Regions from separate parts of the Homo sapiens genome. Here region 1 is linked to region 2. The links come from fine-mapping of genetic effects on gene expression. Tissue or cell type: T cells. Region 2 holds a variant in brackets; the other region holds the start of a gene. All regions are shown on one strand. Distances are between the middles of the regions.

What was found. PIP is the estimated chance that this variant, and not a neighbour inherited with it, causes the effect.
Region 1: it holds the start of GAS6, and the variant in region 2 is fine-mapped to the expression of GAS6 in T cells (TOPMed, PIP above 0.99).

Annotation. Positions count from the first base shown.
Region 1 is chr13:113,862,505-113,865,203 of GRCh38, reverse strand. GAS6 (growth arrest specific 6) reads left to right here and starts at 1,128. Exons shown (of 15, transcript NM_000820.4): 1 at 1,128-1,371; 2 at 1,463-1,629. The coding sequence starts at 1,284. It overlaps GAS6-DT (GAS6 divergent transcript), which reads right to left and starts at 1,027. Exons shown (of 2, transcript NR_044993.1): 1 at 909-1,027; 2 at 1-194. RefSeq lists silencers at 1,435-1,494, 1,515-1,574, 2,055-2,104 and an enhancer at 1,123-1,714.
Region 2 is chr13:113,826,546-113,829,148 of GRCh38, reverse strand. GAS6 (growth arrest specific 6) reads left to right here. Exons shown (of 15, transcript NM_000820.4): 11 at 438-602; 12 at 1,985-2,153. All of the region lies in intron 1 of GAS6-AS1 (GAS6 antisense RNA 1), which reads right to left. Among named protein-coding and RNA genes, the nearest start is that of GAS6-AS1, 12 kb to the right of the region's middle. The variant C/G (reference allele first, on the strand shown) is at 1,305.

The DNA of each region.
Region 1 (2,699 bases), 36 kb before region 2:
ATCCTGGCTAACACGGTGAAACCCCGTCTCTACTAAAAATAAAAAAAATCAGCCGGGCGTGGTGGCGGGCGCCTGTGGTCCCAGCTACTCGGGAGGCTGAGGCAGGAGAATGGCGTGAACCCGGGAGGCGGAGCTTGCAGTGAGCAGAGATCACGCCACTGCACCCCAGCCTGGGCAACATAGCGAGACTCCGTCTGAAAACAAACAAACAACAACAACAAAAATTCATGCTCATAATCCCACTTTCAAACCAGTGACCTCAAAGATTTCTAGCAGCAATCCTATTCCATTCTTCCAATTACAGAAAGCAAAGAGAAACTGGATCTGGGGATCTAAGCGTTGAGCCTGCTGAGCAGAACGGCCATTCATTTGGGGTGAGGTGCTGACTCACTGCCCCTCTACATTGCATTTTGGGGTGTGGGGATTTCCAGAGCAGGATTCTCCAGAGAGGAGTATCCAAGCTCCCTCCTCCCGCAGCAGGGGGATGCTGGGCTAACTGCCTGGTTCGGTCCCCCGTGAGTGGTCTGCTGTGTTTTGGTTCTGTTTGTTTGTGTGTGTTTTGCCTATGACTTTGCGAAATATTCCAAGACAAGAGCCAGAAAGTCTTGGTCTCTGAAGACAAGCACAATGTTGCTTTCAGCTTAAATATCTACTGGGAAACCTCAAGATTTTTAATGTCATCATTATGAAAAACAGAGATTATAAAAGGAAACCGTCGCATTTCACTCGCTGGCCCCCAGTGGGATTGGATCTGACCTCAGTGTATCTTTTCTTTGGTAGGTTTTAAGTCTTGACAAAATGTGCCTAAGAATGAAGACTCCAAAAAGGATGCAGTAGATTCGGGGGGAGTGGGGGTTGGAAAGAGGCTTAAATCTTCACATGACACCTGGAATATGGTCAAAATGTACCTGCTCAAGTTGAACCAGGTATTGCGTCCTCCTTTTACCCCATCGCTAGTGAAGACAACCACCGCCTGGGGAGACGCTCCTTTTCCGAAACACTCGAGTCCCGCCGCGTCCCGGACGCTCCGCTTTCCCCGCGCCCGGATCCTCCCGGGAACCCGCGCCCCGCCCGCGCGCTGGTCCCGCCCCCGCCGCCTCCCCGCGCGCAGCCGCCCGAACACGCCCAGACCGAGCGCTTGAGGTGCCGCAGCCGCCGCCGCCGCCGCCGCCGCGATGTGACCTTCAGGGCCGCCAGGACGGGATGACCGGAGCCTCCGCCCCGCGGCGCCCGCGGCTCGCCTCGGCCTCCCGGGCGCTCTGACCGCGCGTCCCCGGCCCGCCATGGCCCCTTCGCTCTCGCCCGGGCCCGCCGCCCTGCGCCGCGCGCCGCAGCTGCTGCTGCTGCTGCTGGCCGCGGAGTGCGCGCTTGGTGAGTCCCGCGGGCCCGAGACCCCGTCCCCGGGCGGCGGGAGGAGGCTCCGGGCGCGGCTTGACGCGTCCCCCTCTCTCCCTCCGGGCAGCCGCGCTGTTGCCGGCGCGCGAGGCCACGCAGTTCCTGCGGCCCAGGCAGCGCCGCGCCTTTCAGGTCTTCGAGGAGGCCAAGCAGGGCCACCTGGAGAGGGAGTGCGTGGAGGAGCTGTGCAGCCGCGAGGAGGCGCGGGAGGTGTTCGAGAACGACCCCGAGACGGTGAGCAGCCGGCGGGCGGGATGCGGGGGAACCCCTGGCGCCCGCGCGCCTCCAACCGCTCCCGAGAGGCAGCGCTGCTGCCGCCCCCCAGCTCCGCGCGGCGAGGCCTGGCCTCAGGGTCCCAGGAGCCCCGGCCCGCCCCGCGTCCCCCACGCCCATCCCCCGGCGACCCCGGGATCCCCGCGCAGGCCGGTGAGACGCTGCGGGGCTGTCCGGGAAACGCTCGCTGTCAGACGCCTCCCCGCGGGGAAGCCGGGAGTCCGTTTCCAAAGTGCGAGAGAAACACAATGGTTAAAACCCAAACCGCTTCCCCGCGGCCCTCCCTCTGCTGGGCTGGAGGTGAGGAACCCCCGGGCCGCGCCTCGTCCTCCTGAGAGGGGTGGAGAGCAGTCCCCTCCCGAAAGAGGAATTGAAAGGGCCGAGGGCGGGAACTGCTTGCGGCAGCAGGTCCAAAAATAAGATTCCAGGAATCGAGCGGGGCCGCATGCGGGAGGGGAGGGCGGCTCCGCGGCCCCGTTCTGCCAGGTGCTCTCCTGGAGGCAGCGGGTGCTTTCAGGAGCCCGACGGTGCTGGCCCCGGCACCTCGGTTAGGAATGTCCTTGGAGAAGGCGGGGCGCCCGGGGCCGCCTCCCGCAGGAGCCGCCGTGTGAGGACGGCCTGGCCACTCTATCCTGCGGGCTCGGGAGCGGGTGACTTTGGAAAGTCCGAGAAGGTGTGGATTCCCGTTGACGTCCCTCCCGCCCTGAAGTCAGGGTGATTTCATAGCGAAGTTTTCCGTTCTGCTGGAATGTTCCTTTTAAAGAATTCTCCTGGGGTGGAATAAATGTCACCCGGGATGAAAGAGTGGTTCTGGATGAACCATGGAGGCCTGTTTCCGCTTACATTTCTAGTGGTTGACTTGACCCCTCTTAGATCTGCCTTTCTGAAAGCTCTGAGGCTGTCAGATGGCCACTGTGCACTTGTGGACATAGCTCATCCCTGCAGAGATGACGCACCTGGGGCTGTTGCCCGGGGGCTGCCCACAGCCCCACAGGCCCGTGCCCTCCTTCAGCTCAGCCTAGCTTGGTCGC
Region 2 (2,603 bases):
CTCCCTGAGGTCGGGACCCTCTTGGCCCAGGTGAGGATCAGGTGGCCTCCCTGAGATCGGGACCCTCTTGGCCCAGGTGAGGATCATGTGGTCTGCCTGAGATTGAGACCCTCTTGGCCCAGGTGAGGATCAGGTGGTCTCCCTGAGATCGGGACCCTCTTGGCTCAGGGGAGGATCAGGTGGTCTCCCTGAGGTCGGGACCCTCTTGGCTCAGGGGAGGATCAGGTGGTCTCCCTGAGATCGGGACCCTCTTGGCTCAGGGGAGGATCAGGTGGTCTCCCTGAGGTTGGGACCCTCTTGGCCCAGGTGAGGATCAGGTGGCCTCCCCGAGGTCGGGACCCTCTTGGCTCAGGAGAGGATGAGTGTGGTTTTTCTCAGTTGGGAGCCCCTTCAGAACGTGCACTCCCATCTTTTCTCATGGCGCTGCCTCTCTTCAGATCTCTGTTGAGGAGCTGGCGCGGAATCTGGTCATCAAGGTCAACAGGGATGCTGTCATGAAAATCGCGGTGGCCGGGGACTTGTTCCAACCGGAGCGAGGACTGTATCATCTGAACCTGACCGTGGGAGGTATTCCCTTCCATGAGAAGGACCTCGTGCAGCCTGTGAGTACTGTACCTGTCCCTGTGTAGACGCGCCGTGTGCTGGGATCCCGGGAACGGTGTCAGGAAGCCTCAGTCACACCCTGCCCTGTGTTTACCATTAACCAGGTGTGAGGAGGACCTAGAGGAAGGAAAGGTTTCCTAGAGTTTGACAAAGTCGCCGTACAGCTATGTCATTAATTTTACCATCTCTTTTTATGAGACCTAAGTTTTCATCTGAATTGATAATAAAGTTGTCTATTTTTCAATGGAGATAAGACACAATTAAATTATTATTATTTTTTTTGAGACGGAGTCTTGCTCTGTTGCCCAGGCTGGAGTGCAGTGGCGCGATCTCGGCTCACTGCAAGCTCCGCCTCCCGGGTTCACGCCATTCTCCTGCCTCAGCCTCCCAGGCAGCTGGGACTACAGGCGCCCGCCACCACGTCCGGCTAATTTTTTTGTATTTTTAGTAGAGACGGGGTTTCGCCGTGGTCTCGATCTTCTGACCTCGTGAACTGCCCACCTCGGCCTCCCAAAGTGCTGGGATTACAGGCGTGAGCCACCGCGCCCGGCCGAAATTATTCTTTAACAGAACAGTAAACTTTTTTGGACAATTTCCAAGAACATTTTGGGTTTTGTAACTCTGCCGTGAGTCTCATAAGGGGAAAACAGCCATGATGGGCGGTCAGTGTGGGCCATTGCTCCAGGTCCCGCCTTCTCTCC[C/G]CTTCAGCACAGCACACGCCCGTGCCCCCGACCTGTGTCTCCAGCCCCCACGTGCTGACGTCTAAGCCGTCATCCTGGGTATTTTCACTTCCACACCAGGCAGGAGAAAGGCACGCATGTCTTCGCGTCTTTGGGTGCTGAGTGTCGGCAGTGCCTGTGCTGAAGCCACCCCTTCAGTGTTGTGAGGGGCACCTGCTCCCCAGGCCCACAGACTGCCTGGTGCCGGGACCTTCGGTGTTGTGAGGGGCACCTGCTTCCCAGGCCCACAGACAGCCTGGTGCCGGGACTTTGCCTGGCTGGACCCTCCTCGTTTCACAGATAAGGGGGTTGCCCTGATTTGCCCACAGCCATATTGAATATTGAATAATTCACATGAGTGTTGGATGGTTGAACAATCCATACTCTTTGACCTTAGACCCACATGGCCTTTTCAGTCCTTTCCTAGCTTTAAAATGAACCTTTAGTTCTTGAGCATACACCAGTGGAAATAGGTATTCTGCAGTGAGGCGTTGTGTAAAGTGAAGAAACCTTCTGTGAAATGGCCACCACCGATGGGACTGGCCCGTTTCTGCCGTAGAGCTGCACATACCAGGGCCGCGAAGGCGCCACCCACCGACTGGGGCATCCGGCATGGGGCTTCTCGCTCCCAGGAAGCCACGGAGATTTCTCTGCCTTTCCAGATAAACCCTCGTCTGGATGGCTGCATGAGGAGCTGGAACTGGCTGAACGGAGAAGACACCACCATCCAGGAAACGGTGAAAGTGAACACGAGGATGCAGTGCTTCTCGGTGACGGAGAGAGGCTCTTTCTACCCCGGGAGCGGCTTCGCCTTCTACAGCCTGGACTACAGTAAGTCTTGGCTCTTACCGTTGGGGTGGCTGTGGCTGCACCTTCAGACAGGCATACGCTGAAAGCAAGCAGACGGCCTCAGATGGCAGCGTCAGGACAAGCTGAGGCTCCTCCGGTTCCGGGGCAGGGATGGGTGGGCGGGGTGGGCGGAGGTGCGGGCAGAGGCCCACCTCTCAGGATGGCCATGCAGGTCACTCAGTTCAGAGTCAGCCAGTGAAGAAGAAATGAGAGAGATGTGCCGAGAAGGTGCCTGCGAAGCCAGTGCCAGGAGGCCGGGGAGAGAAGGTGCCTGCGAGGCCGGCGCCAGGAGGCGGGGGAGAGAAGGTGCCTGCGAGGCCGGCGCCAGGAGGCCGGGGAGAGAAGGTGCCTGCGAGGCCGGCGCCGGGAGGCCGGGGAGAGAAGGTGCCTGCGAGGCCAGCGCCGGGAGGCCGGGGAGAGAAGGTGCCTGCG